Homo sapiens: one gene and its partner. The protein of the gene in region 2 interacts with the protein of the main gene of each other region in a pairwise test. Each region holds a gene or a part of one and is shown on either strand. Other genes may lie near its edges. The genes, in order: SGK2 and PMM2.

Region 1 (11,592 bases), on a different chromosome or scaffold from region 2:
TGCATGGGCACACACACATATGCTCAAATGCCTCCTCTACCTATATGCATACATGTACAATGCATGCACACCCATGTACACAGACTCATGGTCAGATAGTGTACCTGTGCAACCACATACACACACACACACACACACACACACACACACACACACCAACCTGGCAGTCCAAGAGAATGTTCTCTGGTTTCAGATCCCTGCAGAAAATAAGAGAAAACAGCCTTGAGGTGTCTCAGCCATTTAGTGAGGAGAGTTGGAGACCTGGGCGGGGGGTGGTCCTGGCAGGAGAACTATTCATGGAGGTTGCCAGAGATGCAGAAGGAGAGCCCAGAAAGGCTGGGCACTTGGACCTCGGAGGAGGAGACTCCAACCCCACCCAAAACAAAGGACCAAGTCCACCAGGATTTCATCAGGATTTAGTGTCCACACAACCCCTAGCTGTTGGAGCAAGAAGGGCTTGGTCCTGGCTCTGAGCCACAGGCAGGCCTCACCTGTAAATGATGTTGAGGGAGTGCAGGTAGCCAATGGCGCTGGCCACCTCAGCAGCGTAGAACCTGGCCCGGGGCTCCAGGAACCGGCGCTCCCGCTGCAGGTGGAAGAAGAGCTGGAGGGGAGGAGGAGTGTGACAGGAGTTATTGGGTGGCTGCTGTAGGGCTAGGGTGCACCTGCTCCCCGCCCTGTGCGGCTGCGAGCTCACTCCCTCTCTGACCTGCAGCATTCTTCCTACCAAAAGAGTGCATGCTGGCCCCTGCCCCACACAGCAGTCCCGGGTGTCCAAAGAGTCAGCAGAAGAAGAGATGAGTTAGCATTGCTTAAGCACCTCCTGTGTTCCAGGTTCCAAGTCAGGCCCTTCCACATCTCTTATTTAATCCTCATGACAACCTTCAAGGTACAAGTGTCATGCTAGTTTCATGTAAGAGGAAGCTAGGAGGGGTCAGAATGGTTAGGCGACTTGCCCAAGGTCATGTAGCTTATAATTGGCAGAGCTGGCATTTGAACCTGCGTGGTTCAAAGATTATGCTTTTCCATCAATCCAGGCGATATGATGATACGGCTGTCAGACTGAGCTCAGGTTAGATCCACCCATGGGCCAATGTTTTTGGACTATTTTGCTGGCATGGAAAGCCCTTCACTTAGGGATGCAGGACAAAAACCCCCCTCTTAGCATCATTCTGAAAGGCAAGAGATCACGCAGGTTAAATCTGGGGTCACTGACTGGAGCTCCACTACATTTTGCATCTTGACCAGAGAGACAGAGTGAAGCCCAGGAGGGAGCTCTGCTTGTCCCAGCTGTGCTTCTGGGTCACCAGGTGGCCTTGAGGTCTCTGTTTACCACAGTGACCAGTCAATCCCACCCTGTGGCCTATGGGAGCACTAGAAACCTTGACCACGAGCTCCTCTTAGCATTGACCTTTCCCGGGCCTATCAAAGTGCGTCTATGGGCAACTCTGAATGAGGAAGGCAAGAAAGCATTATGGTGGGGAGTCTAACAGACCTGAATTCAAGTCCTGACTCTACCAGGTATGCGCTGGGTGGCCTTGAGCAAATGATTACCTCCCTGAACCTCAGTTTCTTTAGCTACAAAATGGGTCTATTGTAAGATGAAGTGAGATCATTCCAGAACTTGGCATGCAGTGGGCATGTGGGATGGACAGCTCCCAGCCGAGAGCCAGCCCAGGGAAGCCTCCCTGTGGGCCCACCCACCTCTCCCCCGTTGACATAGTCGAGCACGAAGTAGAGCTTCTCAGGTGTCTGGAAGGAGTAGCGCAGGCCCACGAGGAAGGGGTGCCGCACGTTCTTCAGAAGCACACTGCGCTCTGCCATGATGTGGCTCTGCTGTGGAGTCACAAAGAGAGGGGTCCATGTCACAGCCCACAACAGCCTCTTTTATCCCGGCTCAGCCCATATAAGCTTGTGGGTGGGGGTCATCCTACCCAGGACTTTCTCATGCCCCTGCTCAAACACCCACAATGGCTCCCTATTGCCCTTAGAGCCAGGCCCAAGTTCCTTCCTTAGTATTCAGGGCTCAGGGTGGTCAGCCTCATCCTAAGCTAGTTCATGTGGGCACAGCTCTAGCCCCTGTATCAGAGCTTCTTGCCCTTGGAGTGAAAAGCAAAGCATGTGTGATGCCTACATAACTGAGTTCCTAAGGGAAAGAAGCCACACACTATCCATATTCATGTATTTGCTCATGCTATTTCCTCTTCCTGGATGTCGCACCCTCTTTTCAGACCATCAGAATCCCACCATCAAGGCCAGCTGCACCGCTGCCTCCCTCAGGAAGACCTCCCATTCCACCCCCCACGGAGACCTTGTTAACATTAATCTCTCTTTTCTCTGAGTCCCCCAACCTCCTATGCAATCCTCTCTCTGGGCCTGCTCTGGCCTACTAATGGAGTCAGGTGTTAAAGGAACTCAGGTCAGCTGAGGCATCAAGAAATCCATGATGGGGCTGAGTGTGGTAGCTCATGCCTGTAATCCCAGCACTTTGGGAGGCTGAGGCCAGCGGATCTCTTGAGGCCAGGAGCCTGACCAACATGGCAAAACCCCATCTCTACTAAAAATACAAAAATTAGCCAGGAGTGGTGGCGGGTGCCTTTAGTCTCAGCTACTGGGGAGGCTGAGGCATGAGATCACTTGAACTCAGGAGGCGGAGGTTGCAGTGAGCTGAGATGGTGCCATTGCACTCCAGCCTGGGTGACAGAGCAAGACTCTGTCTCAACAACAAAAAAAGAAGTCCATGATGTGCTGTGCATGTAGCTCATGCCTCTAACCCCAGCACTTTGGGAGGCTGAGGCGGGAGGATTGCTTAAGCCCAGGAGTTTGAGGCTGCAGTGAGCTGTGATTGCACTACTGCACTCCAGCCATATGGCCTGATGGCATGAAGGGTCTTCAGAGAGAATAAAGTGGGGCTCCACATTATACAGATGGGGAGCCTGGCACTTGGAGCAGGCAGAAGACTTGTCCATCGTGGAGCCTGTGTTTCCCAGGGGAAGGCAAAGCCAGGCTGGTTTTCCTGAAAGCCCTGTGGTGAGATGGCTTGGCCTGCTTTCTTTGAGAAGGGCCAGCATCCTGCGTACCACCTCCCCTCTACCCTTTGTTGTGACCACTTCTGCACCCAGGCCCATGGACCTGTCAGAGGTGGGACCCATCTTTGAAAGCCACCCTAGGCTGCGGCTTGAGAAGCAGAAGAAGAAATGCCTGTGCCCGAGCTCTGGTACCTCTTTCTTCTTTAAGATGGACTTTTTCTGTAGTACCTTCACTGCATAGAACGCCCCATCAGACTTGCGCTTGGCCAGTAGGACCTGAGAAGAAACATGAATTTGAGGCCCTGTAGGTGACTTTGGACTTCCCAACAGCAGTACAAGGCCTCCCGCCTGCCCCTGCTTTTGTCTGCAGGTGCGAGTGCTCTCTCTTCATACATACAAGTGGCAGCAGGGGCTGGAAGAGGCTGCAGAAGGGAAGACCCAGGCTTCCCACCCTCACCAAGTCACTCACCTTCCCGTAGTTCCCTTTGCCGATGACTTTGAGGAAGTCGAAGTCCGTGGGCTGGGCACTGGGGGAAGAGGGAAAAACACGGATCAGCATTTGCAATGTCTGGAAACCTGGTGCCTGAGAACAAACCTGGGCTTCTTTTTAACTTTAGAATGGGGAAATACAGAGAGCCTTCCAGGAGCCATGCCTCCTCACCCCCGAAGAACCCCATGTTCTCCCAGCCGAAAGAGGGCTTGTAAGATTCACCCTGGCCCCAGGGGAACTCAAATTCAAGTTAAACAACAGGCAGAGGGTAGAGATAAAACCAGACATACTGCACAGAAGGCCTGCATAGAAGGCAGGGTTCTGGTACCCAAAGCCCCTCAGAAGGGCCTGAAGTGTGGGGAGTTGCTAACAATGCAGACATTTAGGTGGCATTGCAGGAAGAGGGTTCAGCATGGGCAGAGGCTGGGGAATTTGTGGGAGATAGAGCTGGGGAAAGGTCCTGGGCCCAGATGGCAGACAGTCTTGAATGCTAGACCAGAGAATCTGGATTTTATTCCCAAGGCAAGGGGAGCCAGGTATGAGGGGAGTCAAGTAGGAAAGGTGCTTGAGGGACCAGAACTCACTTTGGGTTGGCTGAAGGCCCCAGGTTGATGTTCCCATTGGCCCTGGAGGGCTAAAGAAAGAAGTGATTATGATCAGCAGATCCCTACTCCTTGGCTACCTCCCTTTCTCCTGGCCCAGGCCCTGATCCCTTCTCCAACAACTCTACTAGGCCTGCCTGCCTTTTTCTTTTCTTTTTTTTTCACCTGCCCGCCTGCCCGCCTCCCTCCCTCCCTCCCTCCTTCTACCCACCCACAAATCCACTTATCCACCATCTTACCCACTTCTCAAAACAGCCTTGGGAGGCAGCTGGCTGTTGTGCTAATTGAATAGGCGAGGAAACTGAGGCCCAGAGAGGAGTTGCCCAGGGTCTCACAGGCAACCAGGTTGGGATACGACCCAGGTGTCTCCATGACAAATCTCATGATTTTTCCAGTTCATCTTGAAGCCCTATTTCAAATCTCTACTCTATTCACCCTGCAAGTGGCTCATTTCTATGTGCTCGCAGTAACCCTCTCAGCCCCTGACATTGTCTGGGACCCACAGATTTCCTTAGCCTCGGGAAGAAGTGAGCCCCCGATGATGGGTGGGGGACCAAGAACCACTCACCTGTGGACTTGGGGTCCCAGCTGGGCTAGAGTTCATTCTGTAGCAATGATCAGGCAGCTCTGGGGGGACAGGGAGGAGCAGGCATGAGAGAGTTGGTGTTGGGGGGTCAGCTCCGCCCATCCAGGGCTTCAGGCACCACTGCCCTCTCCATCCTCCCCTACCTGTGCACCTGCCACCGCCTGAGGGTTTCCTACCCGAGGTAAGCAACCCCTGCATGGATGGAACAAGAAATGATATCCCCTGGACCCAGACTTCCTAACAAACATCTCAGAAGGGATAAAGGGGGATGGTCAGGGTGTGGCCCCTCCCAGGCTGATTCTTTTCAAGAACTGGGGACACCCAGGGCAACAAGACCCCTGTGAGCCAGGGTAGCTCCAGAAGTCCAAGATGGCCAGGGCTGGAAGGATCTTTTCAGGGCATAAAGTCTGAACCCATCCCCCATTTCACAGATGGAAGGCCTGTGGCCTAAAAAAGGACCTTCCTAGGGCCACATAGCCTTGTGAAGCACAGGCTGGGCTCTCCGGACTCCCATAGAGGAACAATGGCAACCCTGAATTACTGTGCGCAGTCCCAGCTGGGCTCTGTGCTACGATCTCCTTGCCACAAGGAATTCTGCCCAATGCCTCAGGAAAGGCAGCTGCCCTGGAAGCCTTGGGCTGGGGCCACAGAGAGACCCAAGACTGGCCAATATCTATTCGGGGCCAAACAACAGAAGGTGTGACCAGCTGATCTATGTGGCCAGGAATAGTGTCTTCCTTGCTTCCACCCTGCAGGGGAGACGGGGCCAGGGTGCCCAGGCCCTGCCACAGATTGCTTGGGGCCCCACAGTCTCATCCTTGCTTGGCAAAGGCTGAGAGCAGAGATCTCACCTGAAAGCCCAGTTGCCGCGCATCTCAAGACCTTAGTCTTGGCCCACTGTGGGGCCTGGGCTGCAGCCCAGCCTCTCTGAGTAGAGATTTCCTATCTTTACAAGGGGGGGTCCTGGAGGCACCAACCTCATGGCCTTCTTGGGAACAGAGAAAGTGAAGGGGAACTGAGAGGATCCCCCAGCCCAGGCTTCCCTGAGAGGCCCAGCCCTGCCAAGCCTTAAGAGCAAGCTGCAGAACTGCTAAGGAAGCGCAGCCTGCCCCTAGCCAATGCCAGACGTGTGTGCTCCTGCAAACGGCCCACAACACTGCCACACCCTCTCCTGGGCTGACCCCAGTGGCCCTTTGGCCAGGACCCGGCCTCCCTGGTCCCACATACCTGCGAGTCTGAGGAGAGGCCTCTAGGAGAACCAGCAGTTGGAACCGAAGACAGGCAGTGGACAAGAGAGCCTCTCTCTGTTCTCCCAACAAGGGCCTAAGTGTCTGTGCCTGGTGCCGGCCTGGCCCCAGCACAGAGCTCACAGCTCCCGGCAGCCGCGAGGGGGCTAGCTGATGTCACGCGGGATCCGGCAGAGCTTAAGATGGGACTGGAGACTTCTGTTCCCTGGGGAACACCATCTCACCCTAGCGGGGACGGTGGGAGGGGTGGGCAATAGCCCCAGGGCAGCCCTGGAGACCCTCAGGGCTTGTTAGACTGTTTGGGTCAGGGTATGTGCAGCATGGTGTGTACTGTGTGAGTGTTTTGTGCATAGAGTGCTTCCGTGTGTGTCTGTCTGTGGCTGTGTATTTCAGGTATTTGTGTCGGTTTCTATGAGTCTGCGTAGATGATTGCATGTATGTGTCAGTGTGACCACATTTGTACATTTACATCAGCATATGTCTGTGCATCTGTGACTGTGTGTGTCACTGTATCTCAGTGTGTGTGGTGTGCATATGGATGTGTTTCAGCGTGTCTCTGTGTGGTACATATCAGTGTGTATCTTTGTATGTGAATATGCTGTGTCAGTGTGTGTGTATGTGGGTGAGTGTGAGTCTGTGTGGATGTCTGAAGGTGTGTGTTAAGAGCAGTATGGGTGTCTATTAATATGTGTGTATAGGTAAGTCATTGTGTGTGTTCATAGTGGTGTATATCAGTGAATTTACTCTGGGGTGTGTGTGTGTATGTGTGTGCGCGCGTGCATGCACGCATGCGTGCGGCTAGGGGGCCTGTGTATACGAACCCTGTGTAGACCATCTGGAGCTGAAGAAAAAGTCCCCAGACATCAGCCATGGCAGCTGAGAGCCCTTCGCCTCCCAAAAACCTGCAGATGTTTCAGAGGAAGGAACCTGGAGCCTGGGTGTCTAGCTCAGTCCAGCCTGCCTTGGTCTTTAATGAGCACTTGGTCCTTTTGGCCTTTCCCTGCGGGCCCCTCAAGGGCTCTGGCCCAGTCCTCAGGGCAGGCCTGGTTGGCCCACGACTCTCCTGCTGCGTAAGAAACGGTCCCAGAGAGCACCCTGGCTCATGAAGGCCTTGCTGCCTGGGGCGGTCATTAGGTTCTCACAGGGTCCCTTCCTCTCCCCAGGATCCCGAGGGGTAGGCAGATGTTCTCAAGAATAAAGGAGTTGATGGGCCCACAGCCCCTGCCCTTCTCAAACTTTCTGTGTGGCTACAGTATACTACAGGGGAGGGACACATGGGGCTAGGGCCCAGAAAGTTGGTCAGGGAGGGAACTGAGCCCAGGGGCCTCAGGGGTTCTCTGTGGGTTCTGAAATGCGGAGGATCTGGAAGTGTTGACCAGAGAAAACCTGAGTGCACAGTATCAAAGCCTTCCATCTTGAACAAAATAGAAATGTGGAACCAATTCATGATCAGCAGGATGTCATGTTGACAAAACACATACCCAGAACAAGGACATTTATTTTCAAAAACAAGATCCTGATGTGGCCTTCATTCAGCAGCACTATTTATAACAGCAAAATAATTGTGCTAATAGTAACCTAAGTGTCCCACCACAGAGCACTTCAGAACACTTGCCAGCTGCAAGAGCTCCCTCTCTTGACCATATACCGTGTCCAGATATGGTCCCATTTCTTTGTACCCCTTTTCAGCTAAACTCTTTGAAAGAGTTGTCTGGACTCCTTGTCTCCAGTCCTCTTCCTGTTCTCTTTTGAGCCCGTTCCAAATGGGCTCTCATCCCAACACTTCAATGAAACCGTGGACCAGTGACCTCTATGTGCCAAAGCCAGTGATGAGTTCCTCATCCTCATCTTATTCAACTTCTCTGAAGAATTTGGTGTGCTCATGTTCCCCATTTGGCTTTAGGAACTCTTGGTTTTCCTTCTAGCTCACTGACTGCTCTTCCTCCATCTCTTGTGCTGGATTTTCCTCCTCTTTTTATCCTTAAACACAGGCCTATCCCAGGGCTTAGTCTTTGGGCTTCTGTCTACACGTACTTGTTCTTTAGTTGATCACTACCATTTTAGTGGTTTAACCAACTATACTTGTCAGTTCCCAAATCTTTTTTTTTCTTTCTTTCTTTTTTTTTTTTTTGAGACAGAGTCTTGCTCTGTCACCCAGGCTGGAGTGCAGTGGTGCTATCTCAACTCATTGCAACCTCTGCCTCCCAGGTTCAAGTGATACTCCCACCTCAGCCTCCTGAGTACCCGGGACTACAGGTGCCCGCCACCATACCCGGCTAATTTTTGTATTTTTTTAAGTAGAGATGGGGTTTCGCCATGTTGGCCAGGCTGGTCTCGAACTCCTGACCTCAAGTGATCTGCCTGCCTCGGCCTCCCAAAGTGTTGGGATTACAGGCGTGAGCCACTGCGCCCAGCCTAGTTCTGATTCTCTCCTGAACTCTGGATTTAAATATTTAACTGCTTCCTTGACAATTCACTAGTCAGATGTCTAGAGGCATCTCAATCTTTATTTATTTATTTATTTTTTAAGAAAGAGTCTCACTCTGTTGCCTAGGCTGGAGTGCAATGGCACAATCTTGGCTAACTGCAAGCTCCGCTTTCTGGTTCAAGCGATTCTCCTGCCTCAGCCTCCCGAGTAGCTGGGATTACAGGCACCCGCCACTGCGCCTGGCTAATTTTTGTATTTTTAGTAGAGACTGGGTTTCACCATGTTGGCCAGGCTGGTCTCGAACTCCTGACCTCATGTGATCCACCCACCCCTGCCTCCCAAAGTGCTGGGATTACAGGTGTGAGCCACCGTGCCCAGCCAAAGCATCTCAATCTTTTTTTTTTTTTTTTTTTTTTTTTTTGAGACATGGTTTAGCTCTGCAGCCCAGGTTAGAGTGTAGTGGAGTGATCTAGGCTCTCTGCAATCTTTACCTCCCTGGCTCAAGCTATTCTCCCACCTCAGCCTCCTGAGTAGCTGGGACTATAGACACACACCACCAGGCTTGGCTAATTTTTTTTTGTACTTTTTGTAGAGACAGGGTTTCACTATGTTGCCCAGGCTGGTCTTGAGCTCATGAGCTTAAGCAATCCTCCTGCCTCGGCCTCCCAAATTGCTGGGATTACAGGCGTGACCCACTGCGCCTGGCTGGTATCTCGAAGTTAACATGTCCAAAACAAAGGTCTTGACTCATATTCCTTCCACTCTGCCCCAGTCTGCTCCTCCCTCAGTCTTCAGCCTCAATAATGGCACTACCGCCTACTCAAAAGTTCAAGCCAGCAACTTTGAGTTCATTCTAGAAAGCTTGCACCCTCACTCCGCCTCCACTCCATCATGAAATTCCATTCAAAATATATCCAGAAACCATTGCTGCTCACCATCATTGCTGCAACCGCCCTGCCTGAGCCCCCATTGTCACTTGAATGGATTATTGCAATGGCTTCTCCACTGACCCCTGCTTCTCCATTTACCCACTACAATCTTTCTCTATGAAAAGCCACGGTGAGTCTTAAAATGTAAATCAGATCATGTGCCTTAGTTGCTCAAAAACTCCAGTGGTTTCTCAACACACCTAGAATTAAAATCCAAAGCCTCAGCTGGGCGCGGTGGCTCACACCTGTAATCCCAGTGCTTTGGGAGGCCGAGGCGGGTGGATCATGAGGTCAGAGATCGAAACCATCCTGGCCAACATGGTGAAACCCCGTCTCTACTAAAAATACAAAAATTAGCTGGGCGTGGTGATATGTGCCTGTAGTCCCAGCTACTCAGGAGGCTGAGGCAGGAGAATAGCTTGAACCCAGGAGGCAGAGGTTGCAGTGAGCTGAGATCACGCCACTGCACTCCAGCCTGGTGACAGAGCAAGACTCTGTCTCAAAAAAAAAAAAAAAAAAAAAATCCAAAGCCTCTACCATGGTTTATGAGATCCATATGACCTAGCTTGCTGTCTCCATCTCCTCCTTGGCTTCCACTCCCCTCCTTCCTGACTGCCCTCAGCCTCTCTCCTTTCTCTTGCTGTCCCTCAGACACACTAAGTGCTCTCTGGCCTCCAGCCCCTTGCACTTAGTTTTCCCTCTGCCTACAACACTCTTCCCCCAGGCACCTGCATGGCTGTTTTCCACTAACGTCATAGAGGCTTCTGCTTAAAGTCACCTCTTGGAGAGGCTTGTACTGATTACGGGTGACAAGTCATCTTGGTTTGTCTGGGACTGATGGGTTTCAGTGCTAAAACCGCTATAGTCCTGGGCCAACCAGGATGGTTAGTCACTCTGATACCAGTCCTGCTCATTCCCTATACATTTTGTCTACTTTATATTTTACTTTGTAGCACTGATGCCTTATCACGTATTTATTAGTTTTTATTTTCTATCTCCAACTAGAACATCAGCTCCAGGAGGGCAAATACTTCCTGTTCAACTATTGAATCCTCAGCACTGAGCACAGGGCCTGGAATATAGTAGATGCCCAGTACAATTTGACTAATGAATCAATAAATGAATTGATAAATGTTGGTACATATATAAAGTGGAAAATTACACAACCAAAAACTATATAAAACCTATATAAACCAAAACAGGAACATACATGTGATACAATATCAAGCAAAAAACCAAGTTTCAAAATAGTAGGTGTTGTAGGGGTACCAATTTTGTAAAAGAAAAACAAAAGACATGTCTGCACGTACACATTTGTGAGCACAGCTGCCAAAAAAAGACTGCAGGGTCATGACCCAAGGTCACAGCGGGTTCTTAGGTTAGGTTATTTTAACTTTTTTTTTTTTTTTTTGAGATGGAGTCTCGCTCTGTCGCCCAGGCTGGAGTGCAGTGGCGCAATCTCTGCTCACTGCAACCTCCGCCTCCTGGGTTCAAGCAATTCTCCTGTCTCAGCCTCCCAAATAGCTGGGATTACGGGCATGTGTCACGACGCTCGGCTAATTTTTGTATTTTTAGTCGAGACGAGGTTCCACCATGTTGGCTAGGCTGGTCTCAAACTCCTGACCTCAGGTGATCCGCCTGCCTCGGCCTCCCAAAGTGTTAGGATTACGGGTGTGAGCCACTGTACCCGGCCGGTTATTTTAACTTTTATCTTTGTACTATTGTGTAAAGCTTCTCAAGATATTGCTGTTGAGTTAATATTCAAGTACTGAGTTCCTGGTGGGAACCTGGCATGCCCATGGCCCATCACACCCTCCCCCATCACCTTGACTGTGACCCCCATGCCTAAGCAGCCCTCAGTTCCTAAGGCTTTCTTCTCTCTCGCACCACGGTGTTCTAATTTTCTGGCCAGAAGCTGGACATCAATATATTCTCCTAACTCTTCAGACTCCGCAAACTCCCACTCAAGCCCCTCCATGAGTCCTCAAGCCTGTCCCTTTCCTAACTTGCCACAGCCCAGACTTGCCTCCCTCTGTCCCACTGTTACATGGACCTGCTTACAGCTCCCTGGCCCTGCCAAATGGGGTGTGGGGGTGGGACAGTGTCACACAGTTCTCTCTCCTTGGAACATTCCCCAACAAACCTGGTCTTTCCAGCTCACCTTTTCACCTGTTCTCATTGCCTTTCCTGGAAGCCAGATGACCCTCCGATCCCATGCACCCTCTCCTGCTGCTGTCCCTGTCTTCACTGTAACTTGTTCATTTACACGCCTGCCCAGTTC
Region 2 (11,579 bases):
ACTAAAAAGACAAAAATTACCTGGGCATGGTGGCAGGGGCCTGTAATCTCAGCTACTCGGGAGGCTGAGGCAGTAGAATTGCTTGAACCGGGGAGGCGGAGGTTGCAGCGAGCTGAGATCGTGCCATTGCACTCCAGGCTGGGCAACAACAGTGACTTGTCTCAAAAACAATAGCAACAACAACAACAAAAAACAAAACTGAAGGTGGGACTGGGAAGACGTTTGGGAAAGCAGCCTCGGGTGAAGGAGGTGGAATGAGTTCTACGTCTTGACTTTGGGGTGCCGTGGCAGGCAGCGTGGAGGTTGCCTGTCGTTCAGGTTGGAGGAGCCTGCCTGGGCTGAGGTGGCCAGCTGGGGCCCAGAGCCAGAACACTTGGGAGGGGTGGAGAGGAAGCAGCAGCCCTTGGAGAGGAAGTGATTCAAAACCACGTATGCCTGGATGTGTCCGGACTACGGCAACATCTGCCCAACTGCCTTCTCCTGGCCCCTGTGGGCACTCCCCTTCCAGTAGCTGGAGAGACCTTCCCGGACAGATCATGAGCATGCCCCACACCTCTCCCTCGGGATCAGGTTCAAGCTCAACTTCCTGGCTAGCCTCTCCCTCCAGGGAGCCAGAGGCCTGCCCTGCACTCACCCACTGCTCAGGTTCAACCCAGGCCTTTTCTCTGAGGCTTAAGCCCTGGGTGACCTTGAGTTCAGGGTCAGCTTCTGCAGTGCTGGGGATGGTGACTTTCAACAGTGCTAAGCTGGCCTGGATGCAACCTCTGTGCTTTGCTGTGGCTCAAAATTTACCTACTGTGTTTAAATTTCTTGTGACGGTGTCTTTATCCTGCAACCCCCTAAAGCAGAGAGAGGGACTGACTGTCCCTGCCTTATAGGGTTCTGGGTTGGGAAGGGGTATTACTTGAGTTAGTAATGGCTCACACTCACTGTTCAAAGTGCTTTAAATTCCATACACGGTAAGGACTATCCCATTTGACAGAGGAGGAAACTGAGGCGAAGATGAACTCACCTTAAGTCACGCAGCAGCTTGTAGCAGCAGAACTAGGCTTGGGGTCTTGGCAGCTGTGCTCTTACCTGCCATGTGCAGAACCTGCTGCTCTGGGGTCACGCAGAAGGCACCAGGACATGTTGTGCATGCGTCGTTTAGCTGTTATCACTTTACATCCCACCACAGTGCGGGGCAAGCCGATGCCCTTGGAGTAAGCCCCAGGAAGCTGGCCTGGGATGCAATGTGATGACAAAGAAGGTGGAAGGGGAGTGTCAATTCTGACTGCAGAAGGGAGGCAGCAGACAGTGCAGGAGGGGCTCGAGGGGCCTGGGGAGGGTCTCAAGCAGCCACTGTGGGAACTGGGGCAGGGACGGCCCAAACCTCCGCGCATCAGCACCCAGCCTGGCAGACTCGGGGTACTCACCTGAGGGCAGCCCTGTGCAGGCGGTGACACAGCAGCAACCCTCCATCTCCGGTTAAAACAAGTTTGAGTAAGACTCGGTTGTCTCGCTTTGACGCAATACGTTAAGGAAACTTGTAAAGAATGGCAGATCCTGACCCAGTGGGCAGAAAAGCAGCGGGGGAGGAGTCTGTGCATCAGGAACAGCAACATGCAACTCCGCAGAGGGAGGGGCCCCCGATGTGACAGAAATCCAGAGTAAAGAAAGAGTGGCTCTCAGACCTGGAAGGGCTGGGGTTCCATTCCAGAATCTGGGAACATAGGAGGAAAAAGAAATCGGAATGAGAAACAGGAAACAATAAAATCACTTTAATGTGCTACTCTTCACTTTGGAAGGTCATTACAGTATCATTCGACAAGGAAAGATGCCGCTGGATGGCTGTGTCCTGTGAGTCACTGGGATGAGCTGGCTGCTTTCACCCCACCGGATCCGGGGCTCAGACAGTTACAAGCCCGAGTGGCTGGGAGGTTTGGAGGGAACCAGGTTTAGCTGTGATGAAAGCACCTGGCTGTGGGCTGGGAGGCAGGAGTGCAGGGCAGCCTGGGCTCCCCTGGCCCCAGACTCAGGTCGGCAAGTGCCCAGTGGAGGCCACACAACCCCAGCACCAAGCAATGGAGGGTGTATGGCTCAGTGTTTCCACATCCTGAAAAGTGACACATGAACCGTTTCCTAGGAAAGTTCTCTTCCACCGTGTTCTAGCTGAGACCCGGGATCCTTCCAGTTTCACGAAGAACGTGCAGAAGATGAAAAGAGTGAGGGACGCGGACCTAGCTGTAGCTGCACTCAGCCGCCTCCGTGGTAAAGTCTGGGTGAAGGCCTGGGTGAGTGCAGATAGGAGAGCAGCTCCTCTTACTGTTCTCTGGCTGGGCTCTCGCTCCATCCCTGAGAAACTAGAGGCGAACGCCTCCAGGAAGCCAGCCAGGGGCAACCAGAAAGTCCTTTTGGTGAAGTCTGACATCCCGCGTTGGTTTCTCTGGACCTGGGTAAGAACCGGCCCCAGGGCAAGGACTGTTTTGCCAGCACCAACTCTCCAGCCCAGCTGTTGGTTCCCACTACCTCCGGTCTCGGAGACAGAGAAGCAGCCAGGCTATTCTGAGTGTAGTGAACACAGAGCCGGTCCGAATCCGGCCCAGCCGAGGTGCAAACTCCCTAGGGTCTGCTCCCACTTGGCCAGCCATCTGTCCAGCAGGCCTCAGCCCCAAACACGGGAAAACGCAGAGTGCGTCTAGTCACTGGGTATCACACTGCCCCACTCACAGCCCCCATCAAGGTGACATGCAGGCGGGAGCTTCGTTCCAGGAGGTGTTTGTAAACTTCGTCCTGGGCTGGGTCACTGCAGATGGCCTGTCCTGGTTTCTCATTACCAAACCCCCATGTTTGGTATTGATGCAGGGGCCCATTAAAAAAACCGCTTATGTTTCCACAGACCCACCAAGAGGGAGGGTCCAGGCACAGTTTTTCTTTCTGTATCATCCTAGAATGATGGGGAAATTTCCGCCAAAACTACATGATTGCACGTATCAGGGTGGGTATTAGACTAGGGGGCTGGGGGTGGGTGGGGAAGACCTTTTGTGCGAGGCATTCCTCTGGGCCATTCTTGACAAGAGTTTTCTCCTTCCTTCTGGAAGTTTCTGGCACTGGAGGTGGAAGTCCAGACTGCACATGCCTGGCATAGCATGCAGAGCCTGCCTAGGCTGCGGGTGGGTGAGCACGTGTGGGAGGACCCTCGGCTCTGGCCACCGAATGCCCTATGCTGGCTTGTCAGCCGGGACCCCGCCCCTCCCGCTCCCACGTTAGGAGAACAGCAGTTCACAGATCCTGCGCGTGTCCTCAGGCGCTGTCACGGAGTAGCCCATGGTTCTGGGGTCTGTGAAGATCTCATGGTCATTGCCACCCTGGAAAGACACGAAGTACAGATGAAGGCTCCCCCTCGTCTGTCCCGGGCCATTGCTGATGTGACCCTGGAGTCCAAAAGTACCCAAAAAACAAGATTTAACTGGGCAGGGAGAGTTTCTTCAGCTACCTTCCTCTTAGTTTCCAGGAGAGGAACGTGAGTACAATTGTTATTAAGAAGAGATTTATAACCTTCTCTTGAACTGCAATTTGGCTTGGAACACGTAATTATGCCTATGAGAGCCATCACGATGTTCTTGCGAAGATCTGTCTAAGGCTTATTTTTCTACACAGAAGGCATCAGCGAGTGACAGTATTCTCACAGCCATCAGTTTTTTTTTTTTTTTTAGCTGTACCTACGCTTTTCTAACAAGTCACAAGGGAGCGTCAGGAGGGCAGAGGGCCGGGAGCAGGGCTGCCAGGGATATTCCTGTGATGAGGGACGTGGCGACATCAGCGGTGATGGCAGCCACTGGCCATGTGTCACTCTGCACACTTGAAACGTGGCCAATGCAATGGAGGAACTCAGTTAATTTGATTTTAATTTAAACAGCCCCACGTGGGCCGGGCATGGTGGCTCATGCCTGTAATCCCAGCACTTTGGGAGGCTGAGAAGGGTGGATCACTTGAGGTCAGGAATTTGAGACCAACCTGGCTAACACAGCAAAACTCCATTTCTACTTAAAATACAAAAATTAGCTGGGCATGGTGGCGCACGTCTGAAATCCCAGCTGCTCGGGAGGCTGAGGCAGGAGAATTGCTTGAACTCGGGAGGTGGAAGTTGCAGTAAGCCGAGATCGCACCACTGCACTCCAGCCTGGGCGACAAAGGGAGACTCTATCTTAAATAAATAAATAAATGGCCCCACATGACTGGGGTCTGAGCTGCTGGCTAAAAGCAGGGTCTCTGGAACAGGTGGCCTGGGTCAGATGCTGGTTCTACCACTGAGCAGCAGTGTGGCTGCGCCAACTCCCCATCTCCAAAATGGGGTCATGATGGAAGCTTGCTCACAGCTCTGTGGCCAGAAGTTCAGGAGATGATGGTTGGGGTCACACCTTGGTAAGATGACGAAACCGAGGCCTCAGAAAGTCTGCAAGGGCCCATGTCTAGGAGGACCTGGGCATGTTCTGCTGGGGTCCTGTGCCTGAGTTGAGTGCTCCCATCTGTGTCCCCATCACCCCCACCAATCCCACTGGGCTCACGTTAATGAATCAGGTTATCTGCCGCTCCCGCAACCCCGAGCCCTGCAGGAAAGCCCCCGTTTTTCTCATGGAATTCCTTTATTTCCCTCATAAAATTGGATAATCACTCTAACTCAAAACCTTAAAATAATCTACGATTGCTTTACAATACAATGAACACAACCGTAGAAAAAAGGGATTTTTCTCATAAAGCACCGAGCATGAAGCCAACGTGGAAACCATGATTTTGTACCAAAAATCTGACATCCTTTAAAAGAATTAATTGCCTCTGGAAATGAGTGTTTTCATTTTTGCAAGAACCTATCCCCAGGCAGATGGCCTCCTCAGGTGGAGGTGAATTTCAGGCTTCAGGAGGGAACGTCGCTGGGCCCAGGGAGTGCTGGGTGGAGTCAGGTTAGGAGGCCATGAACTTGGCATCTCTTCCAGTCCAGCCACTTGGGAACCTGTCAGGGCCTTGTACTGGCCTTACACAGTTTTGTACCAGGCCTGGGGGCCTTCAGACAGACCTGAATTGCATGGCCACCATCTGCTACCTACACATGTGAAATCAGTTCTGGTAATTCTGATTTTGCCTTTTTTTTCCTTCGGACATAGGGTCTTGCTATGTTGCCCAGGCTGGGCTCGAGCGAACCTCCTGCCTCAGCCTCTCGAGTAGCTGAGACAAAGACTGTGTCCAACAGTGCCAAGCTAGTTCCAGTAATTCTTCTAATTAAAAAAAAAAAAAAAAAGATTTCTTTCAGGAATGGCACAGTGGGTAAAAGTCACAGAGAACCTAACAAAGGCACAACCTAGCTGGGTGTGGTGGTGCGCACCTGTAATCCCAGCTGCTTGGCAGGAGAATCACTTGAACCTGGGAGGCGGAGATTGCAGTGAGCCAAGAACAGACCACTGTACTTCAGCCTGGGCAACAGAGCGAGACTCAAAAGAAAAAAAAACAAACAAAAAACCAAAGGCACAACCAACTCTCACATGCCTCAAAAGAGCCAAACACCCTCCCCGCCTCAGTGACTGAGGAGGGGAGTCAGTATTCACACATTAACACAACACACCTTTCTAGAACACCTACTGTCAGGCCTCTGAGCCCAAGCCAAGCCATCGCATCCCCTATGACTTACACGTGTACATCCAGATGGCCTGAAGTAACTAAAGATCCACAAAAGAAGTAAAAATAGCCTTAACTGATGACATTCCACCATTGTGATTTGTTTCTGCCCCACCCGAACTGATCAATGTACTTTGTAATCTCCCCCACCCTTAAGAAGGTTCTTTGAAATTCTCCCCACTCTTGAGGATGTACTTTGTGAGATCCACCCCTGCCCGCAAAACATTGCTCTTAACTTCACCGCCTATCCCAAAACCCATAAGAACTAATGATAATCCACCACCCTTTGCCGACTCTCTTTTCGGACTCAGCCCGCCTGCACCCAGGTGAAATAAACAGCCATGTTGCTCACACAAAGCCTGTTTGGTGGTCTCTTCACATGGACGCGCATGAAATTTGGTGCCGTGACTCAGATCGGGAGACCTCCCTTGGGAGATCAATCCCCTATCCTCCTGCTCTTTGCTCCATGAGAAAGATCCACCTACGACCTCAGGTCCTCAGACCCACCAGCCCAAGAAACATCTCACCAATTTCAAATCCAATAAGCAGCCTCTTTTTACTCTCTTCTCCAACCTCCCTATCCCTCACCGTCTTTCTCCTTTCAATCTAGGCGCCACACTTCAATCTCTCCCTTCTCTTAATTTCAATTCCTTTCATTTTCTGGTAGAGACAAAGGAGACGTTTTATCTGTGGACCCAAAAAACCGGCGCCGGTCACGGACTGGGAAGGCAGCCTTCCCTTGGTGTTTAATCATTGCAAGGACGCCTCTGATCATTCACCCACGTTTCAGAGGTGTCAGACCACGCAGGGACACCTGCCTTGGTCCATAACCCTTAGCGGCAAGTCCCGCTTTTCTGAGGAAGGGGCAAGGACCCCAACCCCTTCTTTCCGTGTCTCTACCCCTTCTCTGATTTTCTGGGGCAGGGGCAAGAACCCCCCAACCCCTTCTCCTTCACCCTTAGCGGCAAGTCCCGCTTTTCTGGGGGAGAGGCAAGTACCCCAAACTCGTATCTCTGTGCCCCAATCCCTTATTTCCATGCCCCAACCCCTTTCCCGCTTTTCTGGAGGGTAAGAACCCCCAAACCCCTTCCCTCCATGTCTCTACGCTCTCTTTTCTCTGGGCTTGCCTCCTTCACTATGGGCAACCTTCCTACATTCCTCCTTCTTCTCCCTTAGCCTGTGTTCTCAAGAACTTAAAACCTCTTCAACTCATACCTGACCTAAAACCTAAATAAATGCCTTATTTTCTTCTGCAATGCCGCTTGACCCCAATACAAACTCGACAGTAGTTCCAAATAGCCAGAAAACGGCACTTTCAATTTTTCCATCCTGCAAGATCTAAATAATTCTTGTCGTAAAATGGGCAAACAGTCTGAGGTGCCTGATGTCCAGGCATTCTTTTACACATCAGTCCCTTCCTAGTCTCTGTGCCCAGTGCAACTCGTCCCAAATCTTCCTTCTTTCCCTCCCGCCTGTCCCCTCAGTCCCAACCCCAAGCGTTGCTGAGTCTTTCTAATCTTCCTTTTCTACAGACCCATCTGACCTCTCCCCTCCTCGCCAGGCCGAGCTAGGTTCCAATTCTTCCTCAGCCCCTAGACCCTAAAAGGTCAAAAGGCCGTCTTATTCTCAATATACATTTTATTACCCAATCTGCTCCCGACATTAAATAAAACTCCAAAAATTAGAATCTGGCCCTCAAACTCCACAACAGGACTTAATTAACCTCACCTTCAAGGTGTACAATAATAGAAAAAAGTTGCAATTCCTTGCCTCCACTGTGAGACAAACCCCAGCCACATCTCCAGCACACAAGAACTTCCAAATGCCTGAACCGCAGCGGCCAGGCGTTCCTCCAGAACCTCCTCCCCCAGGAGCTTGCTACACGTGCCAGAAATCTGACTACCAGGGCCAAGGAATGCCTGCAGCCCAGGATTCCTCCTAAGCCGTGTCCCATCTGTGCGGGACCCCACTGGAAATCGGACTGTTCAACTCACCTGGCAGCCACTCCCAGAGCCCCTAGAACTCTGGCCCAAGGCTCTCTGACTGACTCCTTGGCTTAGCGGCTGAAGATTGACGCTGCCCAATCGCCTTGGAAGCCCCCAGACCATCACGGACGCCAAGCTTTGGGTAACTCTCACAGTGGAGGGTAAGTCCACCCACTGTTTAATCGAAACGGGGACTACCCACTCCATGTTGCCTTCTTTTCAAGGGCCTGTTTCCCTTGCCTCCATAACTGTTGTGGGTATGGACGGCCAGGCTTCTAAACCTCTTAAAACTCCCCAACTCTGGTGCCAACTTAGACATTACTCTTTGAAGCACTCATTTTTAGTTATCCCCACCTGCCCAGTTCCCTTATTAGGCCGAGATATTTTAAGCAAATTATCTGCTTCCCTGACTATTCCTGGACTACAGCCGCATCTCATTGCCGCCCTTCTCCCCAACCCAAAGCCTCCTTTGCGTCTTCCTCTCATATCCCCCCACCTTAACCCACAAATATGGGACATTTCTACTCCTTCCCTGACAACTGATCACATGCCCATTACCATCCCATTAAAACCTAATCACCCTTACCCCGCTCAACGCCAATATCCCATCCCACAGCACGCTTTAAAAGGATTAAAGCCTGTTATCACTGGCCTGCTACAGCATAGGCTTCTAAAACCTATAAACTCTTCTTATAATCCCCCCATTTTACCTGTCCAGAAACCGGACAAGTCTTACAGATTAGTTCAGGATCTGCGCCTTATCAACCAAATTGTTTTGCCTATCCACCCTGTGGTGCCCAACCCATACACTCTTTCATCCTCAATACCTTCCTCCACAACTCACTATTCCACACTTGATCTTAAAGATGCTTCTTTCAGCGTTCCCCTGCACCCCTTGTCCCAGCCTCTCTTTGCTTTCACCTGGACTGACCCTGACACCCATCAGTCCCAGCAGCTTACCTGGGCTGTGCTGCCACAAGGTTTCAGGGACAGCCCTCATTACTTCAGCCAAGCTCTTTCTCATGATCTACTTTCTTTCCACCCCTCCGCTTCTCACCTTATTTAATATATTGATGACCTTCTTCTTTGTAGCCCCTCCTTTGAATCTTCTCAACAAGACACACTTCTGCTCCTTCAGCATTTACTCTCCAAAGGATATCAGGTATCCCCCTCCAAAGCTCAAATTTCATCCTCATCTGTTACCTATCTCGGCATAATTCTCATAAAAACACACGTGCTCTGCCTGTTGATCTTGTCTGATTAATCTCCCAAACCTCAATCCCTTCCAAAACAACAACTCCCTTCCTTCCTAGGCATGGTTAGTGCGGTCAGAATTCTTACACAACAGCCAGGACCACACCCTGTAGCCTTTCTGTCCAAACAACTTGACCTTACTGTTTTAGCCTAGCCCTCATGTCTGCGTGCAGCGGCTGCCGCTGCTTTAATACTTTTAGAGGCCGTAAAAATCACAAACTATGCTCAACTCACTCTCTACATTTCTCATAACTTCCAAAATCCATTTTCTTCCTCATACCTGATGCATATACTTTCTGCTCCCCGGCTCCTTCAGCTGTACTCACTCTTTGTTAAGTCCCACAATTACCATTGTTCCTGGCCCGGACCTCAATCTGGCCTCCCACATTATTCCTGATACCACACCTGACCCCCATGACTGTGTTTCTCTGATCCACCTGACATTCACCCCATTTCCCCATATTTCCTTCTTTCCTGTTCCTCACCCTGATCACGCTTGATTTATTGATGGCGGTTCCACCAGGCCTAATCGCCACATAGCAGCAAAGGCAGGCTATGCTATAGTACAAGCCACTAGCCCGCCTCTTAGAACCTCTCATTTCCTTTCCATCGTGGAAATCTATCCTCAAGGAAATAACTTCTCAGTGTTCCATCTGCTATTCTACTACTCCTCAGGGATTATTCAGGCCCCTTCCCTTCCCTACACATCAAGCTTGAAGATTTGCCCCCACCCAGGACTGGCAAATTAGCTTCACTCAACATGCCCCGAGTCAGATAACTAAAATACCTCTTAGTCTAAGTAGACACTTTCACTAGATAAGTAGAGGCCTTTCCTACAGGGTCTGAGAAGGCCACCGCAGTCATTTCTTCCCTTCTGTCAGACATAATTCCTCAGTTTAGCCTTCCCACCTCTATACAGTCTGATAACGGACCAGCCTTTACTAGTCAAATCACCCAAGCAGTTTCTCAGGCTCTTAGTATTCAGTGGAACCTTCATATCCCTTACAGTCCTCAATCTTCAGGAAAGGTAGAACGGACTAATGGTCTTTTAAAGGTACACATCACCAAGCTCAGCCTCCAACTTAAAAAGGATTGGACAGTACTTTTACTTCTTGCTCTTCTCAGAATTAGAGCCTGTTCTCGAGATGCTACAGGGTAGGTACAGTCCATTTGAACTTTTATATGGACGCACTTTCTTGCTTGGCCCCAACCTCATCCCAGACACCAGCCCTCTAGGCGACTGTCTTCCAGTCCTCCAGCAGGCTAGACAGGAAATTCGCCAGGCTGCTAAGCTTCTCTTGCCTACTCCAGATCCCCAGCCATATGAAGACACCCTAGCTGGACGATCAGTTCTTGTTAATCTGACTCCTCAAACTCTACAACCTCGATGGACCGGACCCTACTTAGTCATCTATAGTACCCCGACTGCTGTCCGCCTGCAGGATCCTCCCCACTAGGCTCACCGTTCCAGAATAAAGCTGTGTCCATCGGACAGCCAGCCTAATCCCTCCTCTTCCTCCTGGAAGTTGCAAGTACTCTCCCCTACTTCCCTTAAACTCAGTCGTATTTCGAAGAACAGTCATAACCCTTATGAGCCTAATACATCCCTTCATTCTATTAGGTTTTTCGTCCTTACCCTACTTTTTGCAACAGGGCTTTACGAAGTCACCCCCACCACTTAGGCCGAGCCCCAAAAAACTAGTCATCCCTACTATCTTCTGTCTGGTCATACTCCTATTCTCCATTCTCAACTACTTATAAATGCCCTACTCTTGTTTACACGGCCGGTTTACACTGTTTCTTCAAGCCATCACAGCTGATATCTCTTGGTGCTATCCCCAAACTGCCACTCTTAACTCCCTCTTAGAGTGGATAGATGATCTTTGCTGGCAAGGCACCCTCCAATATTTCCACCCTGATGAAGTTCTATTCTTTACTTTTATACTCACTCTTATTCTCATTCCCATTCTTATGCCACCCTCTACCTCTCCCCAGCTATCTCCACCACACTATCAACCTTACCCATTCTCTCCTAGCCGCTTCTAATCCCTCCTTAGTGAACAACTGCTGGCTTTGCATTTCCCTTTCTTCCAGTGCCTACACAGCTGTCCCCACCTTACAGACAGACTGGGCAACATCTCCCATCTCCCTACACCTCCGAACTTCCTGTAACAGCCCTCACCTTTACCCTCCTGAAGAACTCATTTACTTTCTAGACAGGTCCAGCAAGACTTCCCCAGACATTTCACATCAGCAAGCTGCCGCCCTCCTTCACACTTATTTAAAAAACCTTTCTCCTTTCTCCTTTCTCCCCCCATATTCGGACCTCTCACAACACAAACTACTATGCCTGTGGCCGCTCCTATATGTATCTCTCGGCAAAGACCCACTGGAATTCCCCTAGGTAATCTTTCACCTTCTCGATGTTCCTTTACTCTTCATCTCCAAAGTCCAACTACACACATCACTCAAACAATGGGAGCCTTCCAGCTCCATATTACAGACAAGCCCGCTATCAATACTGACAAACTTAAAAACATTAGCAGTAATTATTGCTTAGGAAGACACTTGCCCTGTATTTCACTCCATCCTTGGCTACTTTCCCCTTGCTCATCAGACTCTTCCTCCCAGGCCCTCCTCTTGTTTACTTTTACCCAGCCCCGAAAATAATAGTGAAAGGTTGCTTGTAGA

What was found.
Region 1: the proteins of PMM2 (region 2) and SGK2 interact in binary tests that used the Homo sapiens proteins (3 or more experiments, as listed by UniProt).

Annotation. Positions count from the first base shown.
Region 1 is NC_000020.11:43,559,629-43,571,220, reverse strand, and holds part of SGK2 (serine/threonine-protein kinase Sgk2), read right to left. Parts: intron 5,998-11,592; exon of another isoform or gene 5,935-5,997; intron 5,424-5,934; exon of another isoform or gene 4,749-5,423; 5' UTR 4,726-4,748; coding exon 4,690-4,725; intron 4,154-4,689; coding exon 4,104-4,153; intron 3,557-4,103; coding exon 3,499-3,556; intron 3,306-3,498; coding exon 3,222-3,305; intron 1,837-3,221; coding exon 1,705-1,836; intron 605-1,704; coding exon 492-604; intron 198-491; coding exon 161-197; intron 1-160. UniProt on the Homo sapiens protein: Serine/threonine-protein kinase which is involved in the regulation of a wide variety of ion channels, membrane transporters, cell growth, survival and proliferation.
Region 2 is NC_000016.10:8,839,492-8,851,070, reverse strand, and holds the end of PMM2 (phosphomannomutase 2), read right to left. Parts: intron 3,348-11,579; coding exon 3,246-3,347; 3' UTR 1,746-3,245; downstream 1-1,745. UniProt on the Homo sapiens protein: Involved in the synthesis of the GDP-mannose and dolichol-phosphate-mannose required for a number of critical mannosyl transfer reactions.